Linked DNA regions of Homo sapiens. The protein of the gene in region 1 purifies or fractionates together with the protein of each later gene. This does not show direct contact. Each region holds a gene or a part of one and is shown in the gene's direction. Other genes may lie near its edges. The genes, in order: EGLN3, RIPK1, USP9X, CCT6B, PSMD14 and LIMD1.

Evidence for each region.
Region 2: the proteins of EGLN3 (region 1) and RIPK1 purify together in Homo sapiens (affinity purification with western blotting; 2 studies listed by BioGRID, with this or other methods). This does not show direct contact.
Region 3: the proteins of EGLN3 (region 1) and USP9X purify together in Homo sapiens (affinity purification with western blotting; 2 studies listed by BioGRID, with this or other methods). This does not show direct contact.
Region 4: the proteins of EGLN3 (region 1) and CCT6B purify together in Homo sapiens (affinity purification with mass spectrometry; 2 studies listed by BioGRID and IntAct, with this or other methods). This does not show direct contact.
Region 5: the proteins of EGLN3 (region 1) and PSMD14 purify together in Homo sapiens (affinity purification with mass spectrometry; 2 studies listed by BioGRID). This does not show direct contact.
Region 6: the proteins of EGLN3 (region 1) and LIMD1 purify together in Homo sapiens (affinity purification with western blotting; 2 studies listed by BioGRID and IntAct, with this or other methods). This does not show direct contact.

The regions. Positions count from the first base shown.
Region 1 is NC_000014.9:33,923,038-33,928,008, reverse strand, and holds the end of EGLN3 (prolyl hydroxylase EGLN3), read left to right. Parts: intron 1-975; coding exon 976-1,049; intron 1,050-2,086; coding exon 2,087-2,118; 3' UTR 2,119-3,782; downstream 3,783-4,971. UniProt on the Homo sapiens protein: Prolyl hydroxylase that mediates hydroxylation of proline residues in target proteins, such as PKM, TELO2, ATF4 and HIF1A. Target proteins are preferentially recognized via a LXXLAP motif.
Region 2 is NC_000006.12:3,106,003-3,111,125, forward strand, and holds part of RIPK1 (receptor-interacting serine/threonine-protein kinase 1), read left to right. Parts: coding exon 1-49; exon of another isoform or gene 50-789; intron 790-1,799; exon of another isoform or gene 1,800-1,895; intron 1,896-3,299; exon of another isoform or gene 3,300-3,394; intron 3,395-4,800; coding exon 4,801-4,953; intron 4,954-5,123. UniProt on the Homo sapiens protein: Serine-threonine kinase which is a key regulator of TNF-mediated apoptosis, necroptosis and inflammatory pathways.
Region 3 is NC_000023.11:41,226,863-41,231,985, forward strand, and holds part of USP9X (ubiquitin carboxyl-terminal hydrolase 9X), read left to right. Parts: intron 1-2,390; coding exon 2,391-2,547; intron 2,548-2,704; coding exon 2,705-2,917; coding exon of another isoform or gene 2,918-2,965; intron 2,966-3,638; coding exon 3,639-3,734; intron 3,735-5,123.
Region 4 is NC_000017.11:34,950,773-34,955,895, reverse strand, and holds part of CCT6B (T-complex protein 1 subunit zeta-2), read left to right. Parts: intron 1-1,296; coding exon 1,297-1,470; intron 1,471-3,842; coding exon 3,843-3,946; intron 3,947-5,123. UniProt on the Homo sapiens protein: Component of the chaperonin-containing T-complex (TRiC), a molecular chaperone complex that assists the folding of proteins upon ATP hydrolysis.
Region 5 is NC_000002.12:161,366,525-161,371,647, forward strand, and holds part of PSMD14 (26S proteasome non-ATPase regulatory subunit 14), read left to right. Parts: intron 1-953; coding exon 954-1,025; intron 1,026-1,259; coding exon 1,260-1,379; intron 1,380-3,582; coding exon 3,583-3,653; intron 3,654-4,647; coding exon 4,648-4,798; intron 4,799-5,123. UniProt on the Homo sapiens protein: Component of the 26S proteasome, a multiprotein complex involved in the ATP-dependent degradation of ubiquitinated proteins.
Region 6 is NC_000003.12:45,600,723-45,605,845, forward strand, and holds part of LIMD1 (LIM domain-containing protein 1), read left to right. Parts: intron 1-5,123. UniProt on the Homo sapiens protein: Adapter or scaffold protein which participates in the assembly of numerous protein complexes and is involved in several cellular processes such as cell fate determination, cytoskeletal organization, repression of gene transcription, cell-cell adhesion, cell differentiation, proliferation and migration.

The DNA.
Region 1 (4,971 bases):
AATTGTTAGCTACGGAAGTAGCTAACAATCATTACAAAATGAAACTTTAAAAAAAAACCAAGCATGAAATGGCTCCCATTACAGTCTATCCAATGAATGGGATAAAGCAAATTAGTGGGGATGCAGTAGAAAGCTCTGGGGCATTATTATTATTCAATTGCAATTTTGCCTCAATGTCCAAAACTAAAGAAAGCAAGCCAAGAGTTTTAAACATACTGTGATTTACATAAGTCGTTTTTCAAAGCTTCACTCAAATGTCATCTCTTCTCTATGTTCTCGCCACCAACTTGGGTCTCCCAGTCTTTAGCAGAATGACTCCCTTCTAGTCCTTTCTGTAGAGGCTATGTTTACCTGTTGCATTATTGCAAAATCACCTGTCTCCCCTACTTGGAGCCTGAGATCGCAGAGGAAGATCTGATCACAGGGTCATTTGAATTCCTAATGCCCAAGATAATTTCTGGCACATACCTGGAATTCCTTATGCATTTTATTACATTGAAATAGAATTAAAACCAGAGAAGTTAATTTTAAATTAAAATCAGCGTAGACAGGCCGGGCATGGTGGCTCACACCTGCAATCCCAGCACTTTGGGAGGCCGAGGTGGGCAGGTCAAGAGATCGAGACCATCCTGGCCAACATGGTGAAACCCCATCTCTACTAAAAATTTAAAAATTAGCTGGGTGTGGTAGCGTGCACCTGTAGTCCCAGCTACTTGGGAAGCTGAGGCAGGAGAATCGCTTGAACCTGGGAAGTGGAGGTTGCAGTGAGCCGAGATCACGCCTCTGCCTGGCAACAGAGCAAGACTCCATCTCAAAAAATAAATAAATAAATAAATAAATAAATAAATAAATAAATCAGGGTAGACTTCTAATAATAGAGAAAACTTTAAAACTTTTAATGTGAGATTTATAGGACATTTGTGTTTCTAGTAGTACCATTAAATCTCTTTCCTTATATCTGCTTATCTTTCACAGATATGCTATGACTGTCTGGTACTTTGATGCTGAAGAAAGGGCAGAAGCCAAAAAGAAATTCAGGAATTTAACTAGTATGTGTTTGATAATTTTCTGTGACTTTTGATCAAGTTAATCCTTGACTTTTATTCAATTTTATGTAGTTTTAAACATGTTCTGTTCAATCTGTTACGGCTTAGCTTTATATATAATGACATCTTGATGGGTTTTATCCTGAAACCTTGGCCTTAGGGCTCTTAGAAAAATCAGAAACAATGCAAGGGGCTTCCCCTGAGAATGCCCACTGAATGTATGATGGTTTATGATAGATGGGAAATAGTTAACTTTTTCCTATTAATGTTAACCAGTCAAATGTAACATTAAATTTTGCCCATGATTTTTGGCATATTGCAAAGGAAATATAATGGAACCCAGTTATGATGGCAAAATTTATTATATTGGGTGAGACTGTGACTCTCAGTATAACAGCAGGGCTCATGTAATATAAACTGAATATAACAGCACTACTCCTATCCCTTCCAACCAGTATTAGAAGGCAGCATTTCCCAAAATACGTTGCATTAAAACACAAATCCTGCCAATTTGGTAAATTCCTGGTCCCAAAAATGTGGGAAATGTTGCATGCTGTATGCCTGTCTTAAAAAGAGTCACATTGCTCACTAGCATATTAAATTAAGGCGCTAAGAGATCCTGCAGTAAGGAAACATATATAATATTGCCTAGCCCATAACCCATTTGGACTGTATACCTCTCAAATACCAAAGTGGTCTCCAAATTGCACCCAGGAAATCTCAGTTTGTTTTCTCTTCCAGATGGCCTACACTGCTTAACTCTGATATGTGAGTGAGGCTACACTTCATACAACTTATGCTCAGCATTAGCCCAAGAGGTGCCAATGCTGGATGTAAACCCAAAGTTCCTCCACAGTCTGTGAGGCATATGGGAAAGATCCCATTGCAAAGTCAAGAGAGAATCCTTTGGCAGAGCTCTATTAGGAGGCTTATATAAGATGGGAAGTGTTTACTGGAGGCTTTTTGGTGACATTTGTGACATAAAACTCATCAGAGCTGACTCCATACCCTCTTTATTCTCCTTTCTGTCCCCAACCCAGGGAAAACTGAATCTGCCCTCACTGAAGACTGACCGTGCTCTGAAATCTGCTGGCCTTGTTCATTTTAGTAACGGTTCCTGAATTCTCTTAAATTCTTTGAGATCCAAAGATGGCCTCTTCAGTGACAACAATCTCCCTGCTACTTCTTGCATCCTTCACATCCCTGTCTTGTGTGTGGTACTTCATGTTTTCTTGCCAAGACTGTGTTGATCTTCAGATACTCTCTTTGCCAGATGAAGTTACTTGCTAACTCCAGAAATTCCTGCAGACATCCTACTCGGCCAGCGGTTTACCTGATAGATTCGGTAATACTATCAAGAGAAGAGCCTAGGAGCACAGCGAGGGAATGAACCTTACTTGCACTTTATGTATACTTCCTGATTTGAAAGGAGGAGGTTTGAAAAGAAAAAAATGGAGGTGGTAGATGCCACAGAGAGGCATCACGGAAGCCTTAACAGCAGGAAACAGAGAAATTTGTGTCATCTGAACAATTTCCAGATGTTCTTAATCCAGGGCTGTTGGGGTTTCTGGAGAATTATCACAACCTAATGACATTAATACCTCTAGAAAGGGCTGCTGTCATAGTGAACAATTTATAAGTGTCCCATGGGGCAGACACTCCTTTTTTCCCAGTCCTGCAACCTGGATTTTCTGCCTCAGCCCCATTTTGCTGAAAATAATGACTTTCTGAATAAAGATGGCAACACAATTTTTTCTCCATTTTCAGTTCTTACCTGGGAACCTAATTCCCCAGAAGCTAAAAAACTAGACATTAGTTGTTTTGGTTGCTTTGTTGGAATGGAATTTAAATTTAAATGAAAGGAAAAATATATCCCTGGTAGTTTTGTGTTAACCACTGATAACTGTGGAAAGAGCTAGGTCTACTGATATACAATAAACATGTGTGCATCTTGAACAATTTGAGAGGGGAGGTGGAGTTGGAAATGTGGGTGTTCCTGTTTTTTTTTTTTTTTTTTTTTTAGTTTTCCTTTTTAATGAGCTCACCCTTTAACACAAAAAAAGCAAGGTGATGTATTTTAAAAAAGGAAGTGGAAATAAAAAAATCTCAAAGCTATTTGAGTTCTCGTCTGTCCCTAGCAGTCTTTCTTCAGCTCACTTGGCTCTCTAGATCCACTGTGGTTGGCAGTATGACCAGAATCATGGAATTTGCTAGAACTGTGGAAGCTTCTACTCCTGCAGTAAGCACAGATCGCACTGCCTCAATAACTTGGTATTGAGCACGTATTTTGCAAAAGCTACTTTTCCTAGTTTTCAGTATTACTTTCATGTTTTAAAAATCCCTTTAATTTCTTGCTTGAAAATCCCATGAACATTAAAGAGCCAGAAATATTTTCCTTTGTTATGTACGGATATATATATATATAGTCTTCCAAGATAGAAGTTTACTTTTTCCTCTTCTGGTTTTGGAAAATTTCCAGATAAGACATGTCACCATTAATTCTCAACGACTGCTCTATTTTGTTGTACGGTAATAGTTATCACCTTCTAAATTACTATGTAATTTATTCACTTATTATGTTTATTGTCTTGTATCCTTTCTCTGGAGTGTAAGCACAATGAAGACAGGAATTTTGTATATTTTTAACCAATGCAACATACTCTCAGCACCTAAAATAGTGCCGGGAACATAGTAAGGGCTCAGTAAATACTTGTTGAATAAACTCAGTCTCCTACATTAGCATTCTAATGGTTTGATTAATATATTCCATCTTTGGCAGGAAGGGCTTGCTAGAATTTTTACACACATCTTTTTAACATTGTTGACTTACACATTTACGCTAAGAGTTTTAGAACGCTTTGGTCATAGTGTTGCTTCGTATTTGTATACCCATGAATAGGTCATTCACTGACCACTATGAATCTGAAAATTGAACAAATTATATTTTGCCCTTCCATATCCTAGAAACAACATTAGTAAAATAACATTAGTCTCAGATAGGACAGAGTGAATTCCCCTTTCGAACAATCTTGAAAAATTTCAATAGGAAAGAAAGGACGAAGTTTATTAGGAATTTTGTATTCTGTAAAATTGTAGTTATATATTTTTCATGATTTCTAATGTCATAAGAATGATAGTGACAATATTCTGAAGGAGGATCATATAGTTCCAAAAGCATGTCTTGTATTTTTCATTTTAGTCAATATGCCAAAAGATCTGACCTCCAAGGCTTTGTTTATTCCTTCCAGACAAAGGTCCTATAAGCTAACAAACCACTTTTTTTATGTGCACTGATTTTTTTTTTTTTTTTTTTTTAATGACTCAATTTGAGTCCTGGAAAATTAAGCTGGAAAATACAACTTTAATGCTAGGAGTCTGTTTTTTGCTCCTCTCTTTGACAGCCCATTTAGGGGAGGAGTTAGCCCTGCTAAAGAAACATTATTTGGCAAATAATCTGATCAATTTCATTTATATTCCCGGCAATGAAATATTAAGAGCCTACCTCACCATTATGTCACTTATATAGTCCAGAGTTCTTGGTAGGAGATTAAATTTTGAACCAAAGATCCAATTTCATGGAAATAAAAAGTCTTACCTAAGTGCATTAGATAGATCCTTAGTAGAGTAGTTAATACCATTAAATGCTGGACTGTCAGAATCATGAATTATCCATTCAGACATGATTTTGTTTTTCTTTAACTCAGGTTTTTTAGAGGCTGGGTCGTCCTAATTTCTTTTGGCCATTCAGTACTGAAATTTCCTGTGTTTTAGAAAGCAATGATGGGAAATGCCATGCTGGGCCAGCAGTTTATATAAGATAGGAGTTTGGATATGTCAGGTACTTATATATTTGATCGACTACGAGGACAAGCAGAAGGGATATTCTTAGTAAAGTTATTTTTTAAAACGATACAACATTGACTTA
Region 2 (5,123 bases), on another chromosome or scaffold:
TATCTAGGAAATACACCCACCATGCCATTCAGCTCCTTGCCACCAACAGGTAAATGGGTCTTCGATAGTCACAAGCTTGTCTTTTTTTATTTTTCAGAAAATACAGCAACCAAGCAGCTCTATTATAGATTGTGGGTTATAATGGGGACAGAGGGCATCATCAGCTGCCAGATGCAAATTGCCCCTGTGGAATGGACCCTGCCAAACCACTTGGTCTGGGAGTATTTCATCTGGGGCTAGGATTCATCACAGATGCCCGCAAGCATCGGGTTACAGGTCCTTGTGACTGGCAGGCATCTTTGACTCTAACCTGGAGTGCATAGTAGTCCTATTTCACCCAATCTCTGATAAATGGGAAGTTATCTGCTTATTTGCTTTTACCTTGCTTGCTACTTTTTGAAGGTAAGAAATCAGTCTTGGATATTTTTGTTTCTGACCTTATATAGCTCAAAGACTACCATTAGTGATGAAAAATTTTCTTTTAACTCCCATATCTCTATCAGGTGAAGTAAAAGGTAGGTGATAGTAGTTACTGGCAGTCTAGAATGGAAGTGAGTTAATGTAATATCCAGCATTTTTATCAAATAATACTCACCAACATCACCTTAACTACCTGAACAGCATCTACCAATGATACCCACAGGTGTCCTGGAGATCTTGAAATCATCTCAGGTAGAGGAAGCTTTCAGAACCACAGAGCTTAGTTACATTTTCTTTCAAAAGGCCAAATTCTCCAAAAACGTCCTATGCAAACATCCTCGATTTCTTCCATAGGTTTTATGATAAGATCTGTAGAATGCAAAATATTGGATTAGACATTAAGCAGTATCCAAGTCATGTATAATCCTATGAGCAGAATGTCCTTTTGTTTCCTTCATGTTGGGGATAAAATTTTTTATTAGTATTGCCATATCATTTTATTCATTCATGATTAAGTCAATAAAAATTTCAGCTGGGGCCATGGTTGGCCAGGTGTGGTGGCTTATGCCTGTAATCTCAGCACTTTGGGAGGCTGAGGTGAGTGGATCACTTGAGGCCAGGAGTTCGAGACCAGCCTGGCTAACATGGTAAAACCCTGTCTCTACTAAATAATACAAAAATTAGCCAGGCGTGGTGGCGCATGCCTTTAGCCCCAGCTACTAGGGAGGCTGAGGCAGGAGAATCACTTGAACCCTGGAGACAGACGTTGCAGTGAGCTGAGATCATGCCACTGCACTCCAGCCTGGGCAACAGAGTGAGATTGTGTCTCGAAAAAAAAAAAAAAATTCCACTGGCTGGGCACAGTGGCTCACGCCTGTAATTCCAGCACTTTGGGAGGCCGAGGTGGGAAGATCACGAGGTCAGGAGATTGAGACCATCCTGGCTAACACGGTGAAACCCCGTCTCTACTAAAAATACAAAAAAAAAAAAAAAAAAGCTGGGCATAGTGGCGTGCGCCTGTAATCCCAGCTACTTGGGAGGGTGAGGCAGGAGAATCACTTGAACCCGGGAGGCAGAGGTTGCAGTAAGCCGAGATTGCACCACTGCACTCCAGCCTGGGTGACAGAGCGAGACTGTCGCAAAAAAAAAAAAAAAAAAAAAAAAATTCCAAAACTCTTCCCACTTTGTGACGTGCAGTTCTCCAGGCACTGGAGCTATAACTGAACAAACAGCCTGAGTCCCTTCCCTCACACAGTTTAAATCCTAGTGGACAGAAGGCAGACCCTAAACCAATATTTAATGTGTCATTTTTTATCTTTTTTCTACATGAGCAACCCAAATACACCCGTTTAGTGCCAGAAATCTCTTTGTGTTTTCACCTCGTTCTGGTTCCTGGTTCTGCCAGTGACAGATGTACAGGGATGCAGCTTCTTCAGGGTTCTGAGATGCTTTCAGTGGGAAAGGGGCGCTTGGATCTACAATAGATAATAGAATTTTCTGTGTTTCTGCTCCCAAAGATGATCCTGCCAGGTACTAAGCTAGTAAATGAACACGCTGAGTTTCTCCTTGCAAATTTAAATAAGTCTTCTGCTTGCTTTTATCATCAAAAAGTCCTAACTCTATACCAAAATATGAGTTTTCTAATTTGCCATACCATAGAAGAAGGGTGTGTATGCAGTAAGTACAAAAGGAAAATAAATGTCTTCCTTTCAGTGAAAGAGCTCTTAGACCCACTGCTTTTTATTCACTGTGCTGCTTGAAGTGAGGTTAGAAAAGGAAAGCTCACTGGGCTAAGAGTCAGGAGACCCAGGTCTAGTCCTGCTTGTGCCGGTCACTATATGGGTGACTTTGGGAAAGTCATTTGCCTCTCCAGAGTTCATTCTCCTCAATTATAAATGAAAATGTTACAACTGAAAATTTATATATTATCAGCTCTAGTATGTTTCTAGTATTGCATTCGTTTCTCCACTTCGTAACTTTCATGGTTTTTCCAGTGGTCAGATTTGGGCAGAAAGCACTGATTCAAGAACACAGATTTCCAAGTAGAGAGGTGCAGGGTAAATAAACCTCCATGTAAGCCCGCGGTGAGCGCAGACTGTGAGTGACGAACACGGTGTCAGTGTAAGCTGGAGGTGGTGGGCCAGGAGGATTAAACAGGGTAAGGCAGCTTACCACTGTGCCTGGCGATGCGCAGAGTAAGTGCTCAGTAAACGGTAGCTGCTGTTATTAGCACTGTTATTATCATTGTCAGCAAAGAACACCTAGACAGCCTTGAGCACTGGAAGGCACCTCAGAGACTGTCACAGGGGTTCCTTGCTAGGATTCCAAGGACCCCAGTTTCAGCAGCTTCACGAACACCCTGAATTGCACACAGATGGCGTGTGTGTGCACATCCTATATTTCTTACACCTTTCAGTAGAGAGGGTCCCTAGTTTCCTTGGCTTCCTCAGAGAAAATGTAACAAATGAGCACAGTGCCTGGTCCAGAGGGTGGCCTACCTTAGGGCCAGGTGTGCTGACGGAGGTACCTTGAGCTGATACTCATTTCCCTCCCTCCTCAGAACTGTCTTCTCAACCACCTTCTCTCTCCTACAAAGATATGCCAAGTGCTCTTTAGGGACAGTACCAACACTTGACAAATTCAGCTCAGCATGAATGTCATTGAGCCCATGCCCCGTACCAAGGCCCAGGCTAGCGAGTGTAAGGAGTACAAAAACAAGTGGGTGTGGTCGCTGCCCTTGGGACTCACATTCTAGTGGAGAAGTCAAACAGACCCAGCTCAGATACAGAGCGGCGCAGGGCAGAGTGCTGAGTCTAGGATTACAGTGCAGGCTCATGGAAGGAGGTGGAATTTGTGCTGGGCCTATGTCAGAAACTCACAAGCAGGGAGAAGCACGTGGGGAGGTCAGCAGTCCAGGCAGAGGCAGGAGCATCATGTCAGCAGATCGGTGGGAAATCTGGTGGGACTGGAGTCTCTGGAGTGGAGACAGGGAGGAAACAGTGAAAGGAAGATCAGAGACAAGAGGGTAGGGCAGAGCTGTGGCTAGCTTCTGAATACTGAACCTGAGAGGTTTGAGTTTATCAGGTAAAGGAGGAGGACCCTTCACAGATGCTGTTCAGAGTCGTGGGATCCCGCTGGGAAGTGTGGCTGAGCTTTGCTGTGTTGTTCATCCACTTCTGTTTTCTGACTTGGTGTTAGCCACATTTTTTTATGGTAAAATTCAAAAACATAAAATTTACCATTTCAACCATTTTTACAGTGGCATTATCTAACATTCACAGTGTTATGCAACCATCACCACCATCTATCTATATAACTGTTTTAATCTTGCAAAACTAAAACTCTGTATCCATTAAACACCAACTCCCCAGCTCCCCTCCCAGCCCCGGACAACCACCATTCTACTCTCTGTTTCTGTGACTCTGACCAGTCTAGGTACCTCATGTGAGTGGAACCATGCAGCATTTTTCTTTGTGGCTGGCTTCATTCACTTAGGAAATGTCCTCAAGCTTCATGCATGTTGTAGCATGTGATGTGATTCCCTTCCTTTTCAAGGCTGACTATTCCATTGTGTAGCTAGACCACAGTTGGGTTATCCACTCATCTGCTCATGGGTGCCTGGCTTACTTCCACCTTTTAGCTATTGTGAATAATGCTGCAGTGAACACGTGGGTAGAAATATTTCTTCAACACCCTGTTTTAGTTCTTTTGGGTATATACTCAGAAACGGAATTGCTGGATCATATGGTAATTCTATCTTTAATTTTTTTGAAGAATCACGATTTTTTTTTTTTTTTTTTTTTGAGACAGACTCTCACTCTATCACCAGGCTGGAGTGCAGTGGCACGATCTTGGCTCACTCTGCAAGCTCCGCCTCCTGGGTTCAAGTGATTCTCCTGCCTCAGCCTCCTGAGTAGCTGGGATTACAGGCACCCACCACCACGCCTGGCTAATTTTTGTATTTTTAGTAGAGAAGGGGTTTCACCATGTTGGCCAGGCTGGTCTTGAACTCCTGACCTCAGGTGATCACCTGCATCAGCCTCCCAAAGTGCTGGGATTACAGGTGTGAGCCACCGCACCTGGCCCACTATACTCTTTATAGGAGCAGCTGCACCATTTCACATTCCCACCAGCAGTGCACAAGGGCTTCATTTTTTCCACATCTTTGTCAATATGTGTTATTTCTTTTTTTTTTTTTAATCATAGGCATCCTAATGGGTATGAGGTGGTTTAGCCAGATTTGAAAGAAGAAAAGTTTAAAGGGTGGCATAGGATAATTAACTTAATGTTTGGCATAAAGCCCTGCTTTTTTGCCATGCTGTATTTTTTTCTCTTGCTTTTGATCTAGAATTACTTACCTGTGTGTTTCTCTCTATGCAGATGAATCTATAAAATATACCATATACAATAGTACTGGCATTCAGATTGGAGCCTACAATTATATGGAGATTGGTGGGACGAGTTCATCACTACTAGACAGCACAAATACGAACTTCAAAGAAGAGCCAGCTGCTAAGTACCAAGCTATCTTTGGTAAGATACCCTGGAAGGACTCAACGCCTAGCAACCTTGAACTTTCTTACTTGTGAGAAGGACATAGTGGAATCTTAAAATTTCTCTGATAATTCTTCTTGAAAGTTTTCTTATGTTACTTCTGCAAAATATCTTTGTAATTTCCATATAATTCCTTTGTCATTTATTTA
Region 3 (5,123 bases), on another chromosome or scaffold:
AAGCACTTTGGGAGGCCAAGGCAGGAGAATTGCTTGAGACCAGGAGTTCAAGGCCAGCTTGACCAACATAGCAAGATCTTGCCTCTATTTTTTTAAAAAAGAAAGTACTGTAAGCACTTACAGTTTTAAACCAGTTAATCACATCTTAGCTCTTGTTTGATTAGAGCAAGTGATAATGGCAAAGACATACGTGCTAGATTAAATGTGGGAATTACACTTTTGTGTAATGAGATTAGTAAGATACTGTTAAATGAATCACTGGCCCAAACGTGAAAATAATTTTCTCATAATGAGCTTTTAGTTCATTCAGTAAACAATGTTCAAATATTTATAGAGTGTCTACCATGTGCCCAGCACTGCTTGGCATCAGGTAATAAGGCAAGTGAAGATAGTATTAATAAAAATGGCATTTGAGAGCAGTTGATGCTAATGGGGAGAAAATATGATATGGCAGAAATAATGATTTAGCACTTCATTGTTACTTGAAAAAACTGAAGGTAAAAGCAATTTATATGTAGTGTTTCAGATGAAACAGCAAGAGGGCCTGAACATGGTTGATTTGTCTGAAATGATTAAGCTTTGCAAAATTGTTGAAGTAATCTGTTTTGTTTGGAAATCATGAATGCATTTGATGGAGGAAAAAAATCTTACTTTGACTTTAAACATACTGTTAAGTAAAATACATAGTGTATATTAGAATCTTTAAATTCTCAGTGTCCAGGTTATGTTTTCTAATTGAGGTAAAATTTACATAACAAAACTCACCATTTCAAAGTATACAATTCAGTGACTTTTAGTACATTCACAATGTTGTATAGCCATTACCACTATCTGATTCCAGAACTTTTTTTTTTTTGAGAGGGAGTCTCACTCTGTCACCCAGGCTGGAGTGCAGTGGCGCGATCTCGGCTCACTGCAAGCTCCGCCTCCCGGGTTTACGCCATTCTCCTGTCTCAGCCTCCCGAGTAGCTGGGACTACAGGTGCCCGCCACCATGCCTGGCTAATTATTTGTATTTTTAGTAGAGACGGGGTTTCACCGTGTTAGTCAGGATGGTCTCGATCTCCTGACCTCGTGATCCGCCCACCTCGGCCTCCCGAAGTGCTGGGATTACAGATGTGAGCCACCGTGCCCATCCCAGAACATTTTTTTTTATTACCCCAAAAGGAAACCCCTACCCAATTAAGCAGTCACTCACCATTCCTTCTAACCCTGGCAACCACTAATCTGTTCTCTGTCTCTGTGGATTTGCCTCTTCCAGACATTTGGTAAAAACGAAATCATGCAATTTGTGTGTCTGACTTCTTTCACTTAGCTTAATGTTTTCAGAGTCCATCCATGTTATAGCATGTATCATTACTTTATAGCTGAATAATATTTTGTTTTATGGATATATATACACCACATTTTATTTACTGGCACATAATCTTTTTAACACAAAAGAAACAAGGCATGTTTGTGCCCCTACAATCATGTTTTAAGTTAGTTAGTTCAGGGAAAGACAGGACTAGTTGGCTTTGTATTATTACTCTGTTGTAGTTTGGGAGAAACTGAAATGAAATCCTGTGTTATTGGCAAATCAGCCAAATTGTACTATTGCCTGTCAAAATGCTTTGCCTGCCATGTATTCTCATTATTAGAATTCAAATACTGTACCTCCAAATTATGTCACTGAATCCTAACTTGCCTTCAGAGATGCAGTTTTATAAAAGGTATTGATGTGTAGCAAATTACCCTCAACTACAGCAGTCATAAACTTAGTTATAACTTTTTTAAAGTTTGCATTACTCTCGAGTGTCCTGAATTCACTTCAGGTAATGTGTTTAAATTACATATATGGCAGAATTATTTTGGACTGGTAATAAGTTAGTAAGAGCACAGACTCTGGAGTCACACTGCTCCGCAGCTATATGACCTCGGCAAGCTGTGTAACTCTGTGCCAATTTTCTCACCTGTTAAAAGTTTTAATAATAAGGCCAGGCGCAGTGGCTCATGCCTGTAATCCCAGCACTTTGGGAGGCCGAGGCAGGCGGATCACGAGGTCAGGAGATTGAGACCATCCTGGCTAACACGGTGAAACCCCGTCTCTACTAAAAATACAAAAAATTAGCTGGGCGTGGTGGCACGTGCCTGTAGTTGGGCTGAGGCAGGAGAGAGGCGTGAACCTGGGAGGCAGGACTTGAAGTAAGCCGAGATGGCGCCACTGCACTCCAGCCCAGGCCGTCTCAAAAAAAATAAATAAATAAAAAATAAAGGTTTAATAATAGTACCTATTGTCTAATGTTAGATTAAATGACTAAAAGACATTATTGAGTGGCACATAGTAGGCACTCAGTATATATTAGCTATTAGATTTTAGATGTTTTTATTTTATATCTGGTTCTCTTTCAGAATTCATAATGCACTGAAAGGAATTCCAGATGACCGAGATGGGCTGTTTGACACAATCCAGCGCTCTAAGAATCACTATCAAAAAAGAGCATACCAGTGTATAAAATGTATGGTAGCTCTATTTAGTAACTGTCCTGTTGCTTACCAAATCCTGCAGGTGAGGATTTTTTTCTTATAATTTTGTAGAAATCTTAATCAGAATTAAGGATTCTGTTTTAAAAGAAGAGAATCATGAGAACTTGGGGTTGTCATTTTAAGTTAACTTTGAAGTATTCCAAATCCTCTTATCTATATGGTTTTATTTTCTTTTGCAGGGCAATGGAGATCTTAAAAGAAAGTGGACCTGGGCAGTGGAATGGCTTGGAGATGAACTTGAAAGAAGACCATATACTGGCAATCCTCAGTACACTTACAACAATTGGTCTCCCCCAGTGCAAAGCAATGAAACGTCCAATGGTTATTTCTTGGAGAGATCACATAGTGCTAGGATGACACTTGCAAAAGCTTGTGAACTCTGTCCAGAGGAGGTAAAAAAAGCCACCAGTGTGCAGCAGATAGAAATGGAAGAGAGCAAAGTAATTCTTTATTTTATAGGCCAGTGTTTATGTATTAATGATATTATTAAAAGATTATGTTGAAGTTTTGGGTTTTGAAAAATGTTTATTCGGCTGGGCATGGTGGCTCACGCCTGTAATCCCAACACTTTGGGAGGCCGAGGCAGGCGGATCACCTGAGGTCAGGAGTTCAAGACCAGCCTGGCCAACAAGGTGAAATCCCATCTCCACTAAAAATAGAAAAATTAGTCGGGCGTGGTGGCAGGCGCCTGTAATCTCAGCTACTTGGGAGGCTGAGGCTGGAGAATGACTTGAACCCAGGAGGCACAGATTGCAGTGAGCGGAGATCGTGCCAGTGGGCTCCAGCTTGGGTGACAAGAGTGAAACTCCATCTCAAAAAAAGAAAAGAAAAGAATGTTTATTCTATGTCATTTTAAGCTAATGAAGGGAGCTTTCTTTTGGAGAAATTTCTGTGAAATTGCCTGAAATGTAGTAGTTCTGAGAGAATGCAAATCAGGTTTTTTGTTTTGTTTTTTTTTTTTTTGTTTTTTCCCCAAGTTCTTTATCTGCAGTAAAAGAAAAGTTGCTAATGGGTCAGTTTTGTAGATTTTTAAAATTTATTTCAAATAGAAAAAGTTAAAAGTAAACTTGAGTTTGCCTACGTAATTTTTTATCTTGAAATATTCAAAATTAGGAGCCAGATGACCAAGATGCTCCAGATGAACATGAGTCGCCTCCACCTGAAGATGCCCCATTGTACCCCCATTCACCTGGATCTCAGTATCAACAGGTAAACAGGAGTCAGTTTATGCTTTTATCCCCTAGAACTGGGTTTTATGCTTAATTTTAGAGGATGGCTCAATTGTTTGTTGTGACTACAAAGTAAGAAGTAGGATTATCTAGACTAGCTTTGGGAGCATGATCCAGAAGAGGGATGGTTTGGAGTGGGGGTCATGGTGTAACATGTTTGAACTTAACCACTGTAGGGTTTTCCTTGTCAAGAAGGTGTCCTTCTTGTGCTAGTAGTTAATAAAACTGTATGAGAATTTATATCAACATAAAATGATCATTGTTTAGTGCAAAGGATTGTGGTGACATTTCCGGTGAGGTAAAATCTTCACCTGGATTCCAAAAACATTATTAAGATATGGCAATGAAGTAAGAAGTCCTTGGTTACTTAGCCACAGGTTTCAGTGATGGTAAAAATCACTGGAAAAAAAAGGATTTGGGTAGATTTCCATAGGTGATTAAAGTAAATAAACTAGTAAATAGCAAAAGAAATGAGATGAAGAAACATTCTAAATGATAACTTTTTCTTTCTGAAACCAAAATGTGACTAAATCAGCTCTTGTGAGGCAGTGGTACTCAAACTTGCACAGGCGTGAGTCTCCCTGGAAGGGTTGCTCCAGCAGAGAGCTAGATGCTACCCTAAAGTGTCTTATTTCATAGGTCTTCAAGGGGCTGGAAAATGTACATTTCTAGCAAGTTCCCAAGTGATGCTGCTGGTGGTCCAGGAACCATACTTGGAGAAACATTTCAGGCATTCTTTCTTACATTTCACTGTGTACATAGAAGCAAACTGAATAGTTAGGAAGTACACATTCAGCGTACTTATTTTCATCTATAGAAAGTAAAGCCTGGCCAGGCGCGGTAGCTCATGCCTGTAATCCCAACACTTTGGAAGGCTGAGGCAGGTGGATCACCTGAGGTCAGGAGTTTGAGACCAGCCTGACCAACATGGAGAAGCCCTGTCTCTACTAAAAATACAAAATTAGCCGGGTATGGTGGTGGCGCATGCCTGTAATCCCAGCTACTCAGGAGGCTGAGGCAAGAGAATCTCTTGAACCCAGGAGGCAGAGGTGGTGGTGAGTCGAGATAGCACCATTGCACTCCAGCCTGGGCAACAAGAGCGAAACTCCCATCTCAAAAAAAAAAAAAAAAAAGTTAAGCCTAAAATCTTGGCTTGGCTGATGGAGCATGTACAGAAAAATGAGAGCACTGTAGGGTTCAGACATTTTAAAAGGTTAAGGAACCAAATCCACAAGGAAGGTTAACTTCCTTTGACCCTGAGAAAGCTCTTATGTTAATCATGCCTGGTTACTTTATCATCTTGAACATTGTTCTGTTTTTAATCAGCATTATTGTGAGTTCAGGGTTACTGCTCCTATATATCTTACAT
Region 4 (5,123 bases), on another chromosome or scaffold:
ACTTCTTATTATCTTGGTGATCTAAGGCAAATTACATTATCCCTTTAAGCCTCGGTCTTCTCATCTGTGAAATAGGAAAAATAATAATAATAATACCCACTTCATGATGTGGCTAGAGAATTAAATAACTTGTGTAAAACTCTTAGTCATGTCCAGCACAAATACTCAATGTCAACTTTTAAAGATTATTAAGGATTGATGTAAAGAAAAGTAGTAAGGGAATGAATTAGACCAAGTGCTAGCTTTCACAAAGTTTGTGTATTATTTTATGGAACAAAAAATACTATTAAAATATTTTTTCATAATTTTAGACCTATAGAAAAGTTGCAAACATACTACAAAGAATTCCTGTATACTTTTTACCCAGATTCTTCAAGCATTTTCATTTCTCTCATTGCCTGCTTGCCCTGTTCTCTTCCTTAGTATCAGTGTACTTATTCTTTTCTAAACTGTATGTTGCAGACATGATCTAAATATTTCAGTGTATATTTCTTAAAACCAGGGAATTATATAATTGCAGTATAGTTATAAAAACCAGGAAATTAATAATAACATTAACACATTGATACATTACTGTTATCTAATCTGCATTCTATTCAAACTTCACCACTTATATTAATAGTGCTCTTTATAGAAAAAAAAGATCTAAGTTCATGCATTGCACTCAGTTGTCGTGTTCCTTTAGTATCCTTTAAGCTAGACTAGTTCCTGAGCTGCCTTTTATGCTTCATGATATTGCTACTTTTAAGCCATTTATTTTGTAGAAAGTCCCTCAGTGTGGATTTGCCTATTTCCTCAATTAAACTTAGGTTACAGATTGTTGGCCAAAATACCATAGAACTGTTGTGTTCTACTGAATGCATCATGTCAGCAGGCATGTGATGCCTGTCTGTCTCATTATTGTGATGTTAACTTTGATCACTTGGTGAAGTGGTAGACACCACAGTGTTCTATCTGCCACTTTTCCCCAATTCAGTGGTGGTTCTTTTCCTCTGCATTGAAAGGAATCTTTTTATGTGTGCCCATTCAGAAGGGCACCACATAACAACAATGTAGTCATAATTTTTGGAAATAAAAAGGACTTCTGTAATTTTTAATACTAGACTTGAAGCCTTACTGTTAAGGTTGAGATTATTTCAAGTATGAAGCACTAAAATGACTTTTATAAATTATGTACACTTATATTTCATGGCATTAATGTGAGTAACTTTTTTTGAACATAATAATCAGACAGGTTGGTTACTTTTACATTGGGTGACTTATTTTATAATTTATAATTTTATGTTGATGTAACAGGGCCTGCACCCTAGAATAATAGCTGAAGGATTTGAAGCTGCAAAGATAAAAGCACTTGAAGTTTTGGAGGAAGTTAAAGTGACAAAGGAGATGAAAAGAAAAATCCTCTTAGATGTAGCTAGAACATCATTACAAACTAAAGTTCATGCTGAACTGGCTGATGTCTTAACAGAGGTATGTTATTAAACTTTTGCATTCAGAACAAATATAGCCTAATGCATGGTGATATTTTTCTTTTTCTGTAAGATAATCAAGTATTTCATGTGGTTTTTTGGGCATAAAATATGGAAGACAGACAATTATTGTATAGGCCTAACTGTAGATTAGATTTGACTGGTCAGAACAGTATTTGTAATTTTCAGAAGTATCATACTAGGCCTTTTTTTAAACGTGACTTGAAAGGTGGGAGAGGTTTGGCTGCCTGCAGATCATCTCCTGTGGAAGCTCTTGAATAGTATACTGGTCTTTTTAAATCTAGCAGTCCATATTTTATTATGTGAGGTGACACACAAGATAGTTGTTTTAGCAGTGTACCTTGTAGATAAGGTTACCAATATAATGAAATGTGATATGATATATTAATATATTAATATTCACATATTGGAAATGTATGTTTGTTTAGTTTATTTCTTTTATTAATTTATTTGAGACAGAGTCTTACTCTGTCACTCAGGCTGGAGTGCAGTGTCATGATCTCAGCTCACTGCAACCCCCGTCTCCCAGGTTCAAACGATTCTCCTACATCAGCCTCCCGAGTAGCTGGGATTACAGGCGCGTGCCACCACGCCTGGCTAATTTCTGTATTTTTAGTAGAGATGGGGTCTCACTATGTTACCAAAGCTTGTCTTGAACTCCTGACCTCAAATGATACACCCACCTCGGGCTTCCAAAGTGCTGGGATTACAGGCATGAAGTCACCACATCTGGCCAGTGTTTTGTTTATTTCTAAAGGTAGAATATATGTTATATAGGCTGGGCATGGTGGCTCATGCTTGTAATCCCAGCACTTTAGGAGGCCGAGGTGGGGAGACGACCTGAGGTCAGGAGTTTGAGACCAGCCTGGCCAACATGGTGAAATCCTGTCTGTACTCAAAATACAAAAATTAGCTGGGCATGTTAGCAGGCACCTGTAATCCCAGCTACTTGGGAGGCTAAGGCAGGAGAATCACTCTGGGAGGGAGGGGGAGGTTGCAGTGAGCTGACATCATGCCATTGCACTCTAGCCTGGGTGACAGAGTGAAACTTTGTCTCAAAAAAATATATATATATATATATATATATTTTATATAAAGACAAGATTGGCTGGATATTTTGGGAAGGCTTTTATCAGGTGGCAATGATTTGATATCATTATTGTTTTTCAGCTTTGTAATTTCTGAAACTTGAATATATTTGTTTACCAGGAAGAATGATAAATTCTTAGGAAACAAATTCACAAGACATTGACATACAAAGCAGAATACTACCTTAATAATTTACTTTGAGAACTACAAATGCCAAATGTACTGGAATACTTGAGTTGTTTCTGATCGATTCTCCTTACCGTTAAAAAAAAACAACTTGGGAAATCAGATTAAGATCAGACAATTTCTTGATGAGCAGAGTCAGAAGAAAGGCTCTGCTGTGTTTTCTGCTGTTAGAGTACTTGAATGGCCCCAAATCTTCATGCTGCTAGGGCACCCATTCTGTTTTAGAGTTACAGAAACAGTGATATTCTCACTATCCAATGGCCTTTGTCCTATTTCTTATTTGCCTCTAAAATAAAATATTATGTCACCTCAGGCAAAGTTTTCTAAGATACAGTTTTTTCTGCTTTATGTATATTTTAGGGTAGTTATAACTTAGCCCTTAATTTCTGCAGTTATTTATTATTTTTATATCATTTTCTGAGCTAAGCAATAAGACGTGTTGTGCTATGCTTCTTAAATTGTATATCCCTGGTCATATGTGACAGAATAAATGAGACGTAGCTTTCTGGAGTGTCAATTTTACTTTACAATTTTGGGGGAAAACATTATTTTTACATTGAGATAAACATATTATGGGATGACATGGAAACTTTTCACGATAAAACATGAGACTTTAACGTTTCCTGTTATTACAGCCAGCAAATTGGAGCTATTACCTTAGATTACCTTTCCTTCTTTTCCATTAAGGTGTCCTTTGGTGGAAAAGTTTGGATAGTCTTGGTATGATAGAAAGAGTAGTCGCTGGGCAGTTAGGGAGCCCTGAATTCTAGTCCCGGCCCTGTTACTAGCTGTTAGATCTTATTTAAAAACTGTGACTTCTTAAGGTCTTATCTCAGTTGCCTTATCTGTAAAATAAAAGGTTTGGACCTAATGATCTCTGAAGTTTCTTTAGACTCTAAAGTGTCTGTTGGCATTGGCTATTGTTAGCATCCATAGTAAAGTGGCACATATTGGTCTTGCCCTAGGTTTTGAATCCTGAAGGCTTTTATCTCCTTAGTCTGGTGATAGATTGTTTGGGCCCTTGGTTTATTTTAGTAGTCCAAATAACTTAACTGTTCTCATTCATTTCTCTTTCAGGTTGTGGTGGATTCTGTTTTGGCTGTTAGAAGACCAGGTTACCCTATTGATCTCTTCATGGTAGAAATAATGGAGATGAAGCATAAATTAGGAACAGATACAAAGTAAATTACATAAGCTTTGACAACATATGGGTTCTAGAATTTTTTAAAGATATTCTTTTATTAAATTCATTACTTACTTTTATTCAACATAAATATATTCATTCACCATATATTAAGTCACTGCTCTAGGTAATGGGAATGAGAGTAAACAGAACAGAATTTCTTTCCCCAAGAAGTTTATGTTTCTAATTGAAATAGAAAAAAAATCATGTGTGTGATTTTATAGTGGACAGGGAAGACTACTCTGATAAGAACCTGGAGAGCTAAGAGGTCTCTGAAGAAACAAGGGAGCTAGCCATGTGCACATCTGGAATAAGAGGGTTCTAAGCAGAAGGAATGACCTCTGAAAGGGTCCTGAGGCAGAAGTGTGACTAGGTTGTTACAGTGTGCCTGGAGCACAGGGAGAGGAGGTGAGGCAAAAGGGACCAGATTATGGAGTACCATGTTGATTTTGGATTTACTCTTTTAAAACTTTGTATTATAGAAAACTGTGAACATATATAGAGAGAACAGAATAGGGAATTTCCACATAACTGTTAGCTATCTTTATCAATTTCTAACATATGAAGCATACCCTTCCCTCTTTCCCCCTCCCACCTAGGATTATTTTGAAGCAAATCCAGACATCATATACCACCTGTAAATATCATATAATCCATAAAACATAAACCCCCTGCTTTTACCTAATATATCCACAAAACATTATAACACCTTAAAAATGAATAACTCATTAATACTATCACATTTCCAGTTTATAGTCTAATTTGTCTAACAGTTGTCTCAGATTTTTTTCAGTTTTGTTTGGATTAAGATCTACGCACAGTCTGTATAGTGCACTTAGGTGATATCTCTTTTAGTCTCTGTTAATTTGTTAATTTGTAGGTTCTTTCTTCCTCTCATTGTTTTTCACCTTGATAATTATTTTGGAAAAGTCTGATTATTTGTCTTGAAGAGTTTTTGTGGGAAGATTTTTGATTACTCATGCAATTTTCTTCTTCTTCTTCTTCTTTTTTTTTTTTTTGAGATGGAGTCTCACTCTGTCCCCCAGGCTGGAGTGCAATGGCGTGATCTTGGCTCACTGCAACCTCCGCCTACTGGGTTCAAGTGATTCCCCTGCCTCAGCCTTCTGAGTAGCTGGGACTACAGGTGTGTGGCACCACGCCTGCCTAATTTTTTG
Region 5 (5,123 bases), on another chromosome or scaffold:
TGGATAAGGTAACATGTTGTTTACCTAATTTGTAATAGAGTTATTGTCAGGGAAAGGGAACTTTAAGCAAAACACGACCTGGCAATTATAAGTCATATCTCATTATAATTTCCCAGATTGTCCAATATTAAAAAACAAGAAGCTTTTTAGGTGCACTAATTGTGGGGCAGAATCACATTTATAAGATTATAGGCATCTTGAGGGTAAGAACTATATGTCAGTTACCTTGTGCAGGTGAATGTTATAGTCAAGAGAAGTTTGCTTCCTTTCAGGAAGAAGATAGAATCCTTAAAGGAGAAACATAGTGTCTTCCTTAGTAATACTTGTTTTAAAGGTAGTGGTTAGGATTTTGGAAGTATTTTCACGTCAGCTATACCTGTCTCAACTGGTTTGTTCACACCTGGGGCAATTGTGTTAAATTTGTTGTTGTATAGGGGGAGGGGAACAGCTTCATTAGGTGACATGCAGAGGATGTTGTTCACAGCTCTTTCACCCAGGGATTAGAAGTCTTCTTTCCCCTTCTCCTCCACTGTTGTGATGAATTTGCAGAGGAATCCCATAGCCTTAATCTATTAATACTCAAAGAATTTGCTGTTTGTGTTGATGCTTTAGTTAATTGTGCTAGTCCAACAGCATTTCACATATACACACTGTGGTAACAAATGTGGCTAATTGGTACATTATAGCCATGTTGTAGCCAAGGTAGATTGGCATTGCCGAAAGACTTAAACTTTATGTCCATTAGACCCTTGGCTTAGTATTAAGTTTTACCTGTTTTCTACAGGTTTGATATTTGCAAATGTGTTTTGATTATGTCATAGCCAAATAAAAGGATACTTGACATGTTTTGCAAAACTATTTTAAAAATATCAAGTTTATACCACATGTAACTTGAATTTTAAACTCATAAACTCTGTGTTTGTTTTAATAATAATTGATGTATTTGTTTCTAGGGGCCACCTACAGATGCTCCTGCAGTGGACACAGCAGAACAAGTCTATATCTCTTCCCTGGCACTGTTAAAAGTAGGTAATGAATGTAGTTACTTGCTTTAGAGAACTCTGTTGCTTTCACTGTATCTTTTACTTTGGAATATTTGTCACCTTAATCCTCTCAGACATAAATAAGCTATTGTTTTAGGTACATTTATAAAAGGAGTTTTTATTTTCACTGGAACAAAATTTGGTTTTTGTTTTATAAAGAAGAACCAGAGACCTCAACGAAATTTGCTTTGTGTCCACATCTCTTCCTTTCTACAGATGTTAAAACATGGCCGTGCTGGAGTTCCAATGGAAGTTATGGGTTTGATGCTTGGAGAATTTGTTGATGATTATACCGTCAGAGTGATTGATGTGTTTGCTATGCCACAGTCAGGAACAGTGAGTACTTTTATGGTTGCCTGCTGCAAGTAAATGTGTTTCTTTTCATTTTTCTTTTCCTATGCAAACTAACTCTCATCATATTACATTTTCTCTTTCCAGTAGGAAAAATTAATCATAAGTTTGATAGAAATTTTTAGATTGTATTGAATTAAATCATTAATCTTTAAAACGCAGCATAACTTCTTATAGGTCTACAAACTGAATGATGCTAATGCTAAATTTCTTTTCTCAGTCCTTCGGCTTAAACTGGTGTAAAATACTGGATTTAAAAGTTACTTACCCTATAATAGCAGAGTGTTAGTTTGATTTTGAACCAAGTGTTCAAAAGATTTGAGATTCTCTTAATTTAGATTTTCAACTCACATATACTGGTTCTTATGTCTTGTTCCCATTGTTTTGAAATATGTCATTTAAAAAATGTTCTATATATGGTGATGAATGACTTTTTAAGCTTTTCTTATTTAAAATGTTAAGTTAAAGCAAAACAAAACAATAGCAAACCTGAATATTTTTTTCCCAGGCATGGTATTTTGTTTATATGCACCGTACTCCATACAAATTACCTGTATAGAATACATTATTCTTTCTAGAGATGTTTGTTTTGTTTTGCCTTTTTGTTTGATGCATTAGACTTGTGTTGATAGATGTGCATTTTGACTGAAAGAAAATAGCCAAAAAACAATAACCATTCCATCTACCTTCCAAAAAAAGCACATATATCCTTCTCACCTGTTTGCTTAGAAAAATATGCATGTATTTTTCCAAGCGATATTTCTTCTTTGCTAGGCAATATTTCTCTTACTGAGCCTTGTAAAAGAAGGATTAAAGAAATTGTTGTTATAAAGCTGTTAGTTCTATTCGAAGTTCTGTAAGTTTACTTTGATAAGGTAGATGCTGGAGAACAAATTACAATTTTAAGTACTGTAATATATATAGTATGTATATTAAAAATAAGCATTTAAAATAGAATATTTGCTACAGAATGCAATATATTTAAAATAATGTAAAGTTTTCTCTAAATAGATGAATTTGTTGAGGTAAACTAATTTGGATCTACTGATTTTATCCATCTTGATATCCATTATATTTATTTTATACATTTGGAAATAGAGAAACACTCTACATGTTAACCAAAGGTTTAGATTTAAATCTTAGACTATTTATTACTTGTATCTGTCTTTTTATATTAGGCTACATGAAACACATAAAACTAACTTATATATGTTATGGGTACTTATGTAGATACCCATTATAATACATTGTTCTTAGGCTTTAATATCATTACTTCCATGTAAATGCTTGTTTGACAATATAAAATAAAAGATTTTGATCCCTATATTCACTCTAATTCTATTTTCTAGTGTCATAGAATTAGAAAGTTTTTCTTCTGACCCCAGAGTCAGTAAACTTTTTCTATAAAGACATATGTCTCTGTTGCATATTCTTCTTCTTTTTTAAGACAGTCCTTTTAAAGTATATATATGAAAAGAAAGAAAAAAACCGAAAACATTCTTAGCCTATAAGCAGCAGATTGCATACCCCTGTTCTTGAGGATGTACTCTCTGTTGGAATTCAATATGCATACTGTTTGTTTTGGTGGGAAGGAAGTGCTTATGTTAACTAGTTTCTTTAAGTACATTAGATTTAGATTCCTGAGGTTAGAAGAAAGCCTTGGGAGCTATAAAGACAGTACTCTATCGCCAGAGAGATGATCTGAACCTTTTAATTCTTCCTGTTCAAATATCTTATTTTGGTTGAACTAGCAAAATAATGCTGTATGTAAGAGACTTGAGGCTGTTTCATTATGATAGCTGAATATTTGTAGAACTTTGGATGAGGCTCATTTTAGTCATCAGTTATGATAGGATGGCATTAGGAAGTATGCTTGCCTAAATAGGTCTAACCAATAGTTATGGTTGGTTCAATTATTTCGTATTTCTGGTAAACATATACACAGCAATGGCCATATACTCTTAAAGAATCCTGAAAGTGGGCTTAACTCGATCGCCAACAGCAGTTTGGTAGTTGGCAATTTTAGAAGCTTGATTGGTATGAGGTTTATAATTGAATGACTTGAGTAGGTATCAAATGTAGGTATCAAAACCTATAAAATGATTTTGGCAACCCCAAATAATATACATAGGGAAGCTTTTTTTCCAAATTTACAAAAATTAATAATTTTTCTTTCTTTCTAAATCAGGGTGTCAGTGTGGAGGCAGTTGATCCAGTGTTCCAAGCTAAAATGTTGGATATGTTGAAGCAGACAGGAAGGTAAGCATTTTAAATGATCAGTTAAAGAAATAATGGGAAATATTTATAGAAACATACCTCAAAGTTATAGATGTTTATCAATGTCATTTCTAGAAAAAGTGGTTATGTAATTGACATAAAAGTATCTGTAAATATCAGTGCCATGCACCACCTGTCTAGTATATCTTCCCTTTAGAACCAGAGAAATTTGCCCATCAGAGAACTGCCTCATGTTAAAATTCTTGACTGTCACATAGTAAGCTTGGGCTGTAGCTTCCCTCTGTTTAGCATATGGAGTTACTGTCTAGTCACTTATAATTGAAAGAGCTTGTATGTTCCATGTATTTGAGAGTTGCAACTGAATGAGATTATGAATATTTAATTATGTTTGTAGGCATAGTTTTAAAGACAGAGAAAGTATAATCCAAATATTCTAAAGTTTTTTCCTCAGACCAAATCTCTCAATAGTTGTCATTCTCTTGCTCAAATTCTTCTGCTGTGGAAACAACTTCAAAATTAATGTTAGCAAAAGGCTCAGCAGCTGAGCAGAACAGTGCAAATTGGTTTTTGACTGAGTTCCTAGTTCTACTGCTGGTTTAATTGATATTTAATCCTTTCACAACAGTGGATCCTGGTGTCCATTGTTAAAAATGTACTCTGTGCCTGGAAAATCCAACTCCCAGAGCTAAGGAGTTAAAGAGTAGATATTTACTTGAATGCTGAAAGGGTAAAAACTGGCTCTGAGAAACTGTGGTAACAAGGTGAAAAACTGAAAGCCTTATCTACCACTGCTAATGTGCATCTCTTAATGATAGCACTCCTTTGTCACACATATTCATTTCCATGTTTTCTGGATAATATGGTGTACAATTTCAGGGTTTCTAATGGTGCTTTTTCACACCTGTGTGTTTTTCATCTCTTCTTAATTTATACCCCGTTAGTGTGTTGTTTCTTTTCATATCATAAATGTATTACTTGTTCTGTTCTGAGCATCTGAATGCCCTCTTTGTTTCAGGCCGGAGATGGTTGTTGGTTGGTATCACAGTCACCCTGGCTTTGGTTGTTGGCTTTCTGGTGTGGATATCAACACTCAGCAGAGCTTTGAAGCCTTGTCGGAGAGAGCTGTGGCAGTGGTTGTGGATCCCATTCAGAGTGTAAAAGGAAAGGTAGAGTAGATTCTATCTTTATTGCCATCTACTGCCACATTCTGTTTACAGATACATTAAATAAAAATCAATTTTGTTCAAAGCAGGATTCTTAATTACACAGAAAGCTGCTGTCTGTTTACTTAAAAAACAAAAAAACTGTACAAGTTGATAACTGTGTCTTGGTATTATTAGCAATTTATTTAGAGATTTCTTCTTTAATCACTTATTGTGTAATTTTCCTGAATATTTATCTTTAAATTTTTTGAATTTCATAAAATTAGGAAAGTTAAACCATACTCAAAGCCTGCTATAAACATTTTATTAATATTTAAATAAACATTGC
Region 6 (5,123 bases), on another chromosome or scaffold:
TGATCCACCTATCTTCCTCACACTGGTCCTCTTCTCCCTTTCTAAGGAAAAAGGACACAAGCCGGGTGTGGTGGCTCACACCTGTGATCCCAGCGACTCAAGAGACTGAGGCAGGAGAATTGCTTGAGCCCAGGAGTTTAAGACCAGCCTGGGCAACATAGTGAGACCCCATCTCTACAAAAAACACAAAAATTAGCCAGGCATGGTGGTGCACACCTGTAGTCCCAGCTACTTGGGAGGCTGAGGTGGGAAGATTGCTTGAGCCCAGGAGGCTGAGGCTGCAGTGAGATATGATCATGCCACTGCACTCCAGCCTGGGTGACAGAGGGAGACCCTGTCTCAAAACAAAAACAAAAACAAAAAACCCCACAAATAAACCACTTGTCATAGGCTGGGTTTCCTGGGAAGCTGACTGAGACAGAGTTGACCATACAAGGGCTTATTAAAAGGTGCTTTTGGGGTCCCCACCTGTGGAAGATGGAGAAGGAATCAGGAGTGGGTAGAGGAGAGCTGAGCTGCTGGGACCTGACCCCGCAGGGAGCCTGGGAGCTGGAAAAGTCCTTTAGGGTCATCCTAGTTGGCCTGACATGGCCTGGCCTTCACACTCCCTCATGGATCAGCTGTTGGCTGTGGGCTGCCCAGGAAGATGGTGACTTTGGGCGAGGCAGCTCTGTGCAGCTGGGATAGTCTCTTCAGGGGCTGACAGGAGGGCAACCTGCCTGCCGCACCCCAGCAGCTGTGCCCTCCCCTGTCCTCGCCTTCATCGAAGGGCCTTTGCAGCATCCCCACAGTGCCCCCTTCCTGGGGGCAGGTAGGAGCGGGTGACTTGGGCATTATGGTTCTAGTAGTAGCTACCGTGTGTCAAGTGCCAGTGGTGTGCCGGGCACTGGAGTTCAGTGCTTTGTGGGCCTTGTTGGCATTTAACCTGCACACTTAGTTTTGATGTAGGCACCATTCTCTGTTTACAGTTGAGAAACCGAGGCCAGAGAGGTTAAGTGACTTGCTCAAGACCATATGGGTACAAGTAGTGGTGCTCCCATACCAGTCGGGATTTTGCTTCTGCTCTGACCACTTGCATGGTGGGACTAGGTGGTCTCTCACGTCTGAGTGGATGCCTTCTATTGCCCCTCCAGATTCATTCTCCACCCACGTACTGTAGGGAGCTTTTGTGGGCTCCTTGCGTTTTCCATGCCTTCTTCCCCCATATTTCAGGCTGTGGACTTTTTTTTTTTTTTTTTGAGACAGAGTCTCGCTCTGTCGCCCAGGATGGAGTGCAGTGGCGCGATCTTGGCTCACTGCAAGCTCCGCCTCCCAGGTTCAAGCCATTCTCCTGCCTCAGCCTCCCGGGTAGCTGGGACTGCAGGCGCCCGCCACCACGCCCAGCTAATTTTTTATATATATGTTTTTAGTAGAGATGGGGTTTCACTGTGTTAGCCAGGATGGTCTCGATCTCCTGACCTTGTGATCCACCCTCCTTGGCCTCCCAAAGTGCTGGGATTATAGGCGTGAGCCACTGCGCCCGGCCTGGGCTGTGGACTTTTGTGTCCCCTGGACCTGAAGCCCCTGTGCTCACCCTCCCTGCTGTGGGTGGGCCTGGGGATCTGTCACGGCTAAAGCTAACCAGGAGAGAGCCACATTCTGCTCGCTGTTAGGACCAGAGGGGTGGGAAAGGCAAGAATAAGCAGGTTCCAGGGTCTCCTGTACCCAGGAAGTGGATGGACAGGCCTGCTCCTCACCAGCATGGAGAAAGGAAGGGTTGGCATTGTGTTTGGTTTTTCTGTCTTTGGTGGATGTCCTTTCAGCAGTATCCTAACCCAGAAAACTGCAGTGACAGACCCCCCTTAGCCTGGGATCCTGAAAGCAGGTGTGACTCCTCCTGAGAATGGCCCTGCCCTGACCGGGGCCAGGGAGCCTGTCTTACTTGATTTTACTTTCCTGGCAATGCACAGGGTTAAACGAGCAGTCCAAGCAAGGAACATGTGGATGTCCTATCTATGTACCTACATGTCCTATTTGCATGACTACAGATGCCCTATCTGCATGTCTACATGACTACAGATGCCCTTCCATCTGACAGTCTGTTGCACACTGAGCTGCTCCTCGTTTTCATGACTTTTTTTTTTTTTTTTTAAATTGAGACGGAGGCTCACTCCGTCACCCAGGCTGGAGTGCAGTGGTGCGATCTTGGCTCACTGCGGCCACCGCCTCCCCGGGTTCAAGCGATTCTCCTGCCTCAGCCTCCTGGATAGCTGGGATTACAGGCGCGCACCACCATGCCCGGCTAATTTTTGTATTTTCAGTAGAGACAGGGTTTCGCCATGTTGGCCAGGCTGGTCTTGAGCTCCTGACCTCAGGTGATCTGCCCGCCTTGGCCTCCCAAAGTGCTGGGATTACAGGCGTGAGCCACTGCACCTGGCCCTTCATGACTTTTTAATTACTGTTTATCAGACTTTATTAGCAATAGATGCTTGAAATATGGTGCTTAATTCCAGCCTAGATTAAAAAATCGAGCATTTTTCACATAAAAGGAAACAACATGGGCTAGTCTTGTAATAAAGCAGCCCCTCCAGAATTCCAGAACAGAGGTCTGTCTGTGTTCCCCAGAGGCACTGGCTAACCAGCCTCCTCCCATATCAGGCATTTCATTAAACCCAAACCAACTGCTGAAGTGGAAGAAAGTGACAGAAGCTCAACAGCTGTGTGCCTCTGTCTGAGTGACTGGCATGACTAGATATGATGACGTGGGGACTGCCACCAGAATGCCTTTTGGAGATGTGCCATAATTTGAACCAGCCGAATCCAGGTTTCCATTGACATGGAAGTAAATTTCTGACTCTGCTGGTAACATTTGTCAGTGACATTCAAGACTCCAATCTCTCTGGCCCTGCAGATGCACACCCAGGGATATGGGGATGCCCAATCCTTTAGACATCGGGCAGTCTCTGTGCATTCTTTTAAAAAATTGAGGCAGAGTCTCACCATATTGCTTAGGCTGGTTTTGAACTCCCAGCTTCAAGTGATCTCCCACCTCAGCCTCCCAAAGTGCTGGGATTACAGTCGTGAGCCACTGTGCCCAGCCCATGCATTTTTTTAATGGACCAGGCAATCTTCCTAAGTCAGGAAGACATGTATTCTTAACCTTTTATTGATGTACGATGTACACATATCATAGATGTTCACAAAGTGAACCCATCTGTGTAGCCAACACCCAGATCAAGGCAGAACATGACCATCACCCAGGACGCTCCTTGTGCCCCTGTACAGTCACCACCAAGTGTCCAAGGATCAGCTGTCTGATTTCTGATAGCAAAAATGGGCTTTTAAACAAACATGGGATTTGATGTAACTTTTAAAAACTTGGAAAATGTAAAAACACATTATGGCATGTTTGGGGATGGATGAATGGAGATCGTGTGGCTGACCTGGGTGAAGCTTGGGCTGGAGACAGCAAGGAGTTGGTGCCGTCTGCCCAGGGCCACCTCCACTGTATGTCCTCCTGGGCTGGAAGCTCGCCCTGTAACAGCGGTGACTCCTGTGTGGTCAGTGGTCAAGGACTGGATACCGTCTCGGTCCTCTGTGTTCTCTGAAGGGATGTGACTACATCATGTGCCTCAGCCCCGTCCCTGCATGCCATCTCTCTCCACAGCACTTCTCTTCAGAGTTTTCCAGGGGCAGAGGTGAGGAAGCTCTCAAACTTCATTTAGATAGGTTCATCTTTTTGCTCAATCAGCAGGTCAATGATGCATACGTGTCAGGTCACACTGTGTTCTCAGCACTGGGTTGAGTGCTGTGGGGAAGGACAGCCAGTGCGATGGATTCACACTCCTCTCACTGTGACCTTGGAGACCCTCGCTCTGGCCCACCCCTCCTGTGCCTCACCTTGCTCCTTCTTCCCCGTCATCCCAGCCTTGTTTTCTCTGAGCCTGTTGAGGTCCTTGCCTTGGTGGCTCCCAACGGATGTTCTTCTGGCCAGTGCTGTGCTGCCAATGCCACCAATCCCTTCCAAGCAGGCTGATCTGCTGGGAGCTGTAGCCCTGGCGCGTCCCGACATGGATTCCCACAGCGTCTGCCTGTCCCGTCATGCTTTCTCTCTGGAGTCCTCCCTCCTTGGTATGGTATGTTTCTGCTCTGTTCTTTTGTGACCAGGAAAGAATGTCTTGTTTCTTCCATCCAGCCCTCCTGCTCTTTCCATTAACAGTCCAGAACATGAAACGGTTATTTTGACATGATCATTCTTGCCAGGGGTCTTAAAAAGTTATGTTTCTTTACATCTGTTGATTTGTGACTGTCACATAGGAGACAGAACTGTGCAAGAAAGACACATATTTGGGAGTCAGGAAACCAGGTCTTCTGGGCCTGATACCACCAGCAGCTCAGGGTGTGATGTTGGGCAAGTCCCTCTAGCTCTATTGAGCCAAGATGACCTCTCAGGGTCCTTCCCGGCCCAAAGTCCTGTGACAGTGGCATTAGGTATAACTAGATGCCTGGGTTTCAGCTAACCATGTAACAGGGACTGGGCAGCATTATTGTTGGCAGTGGCAGAGAGCCTGGAAAGGCAGAGGCCAAGCGGCCTGGCATCCCAGCCCCTTTCCAGACCTTTACGGAATTAAAAAACAATTTTTATTTTTAGTTATGGTTACATTTGCAATTGTAAGTGGTAATCATTTTTACTTTAGATATTCTGGAAAATACATACAATTAAAGAAGAAACATGAATCACTCATGTACCTTCCATTCTTAGAATAATCAGTGTTAAGACTGTCTGCAGAAAGTATCCAGTACAAAGTAGTGGCTGAGCCCACTGGTGATACAGAATGTATCAGGCACTGTGATTCTTGGATCTCTGGCCAAATGTAGAATCATTTACTGAGCTAAAGGCCAATTTGCTTGGAAGAGTGCATCTAATTAAAGTGAGATTAGAAAGGACGAAAGGTGTCCTTTAGGAAATAACCACACATGGCAAGCCACTGGTATGATGATGATCACCAACCCTGCAGGCCTTTTGAGGCGCTCATTCCAATTAAACTTGTCATCCTTAGTGCAGGGGGCAGCTGGGAGCTCTGGTTTGTGGCGTTCACTGTCCTTGTTTGTACCGGCATGACCCAGTCCTCTCCGTGGGCTCC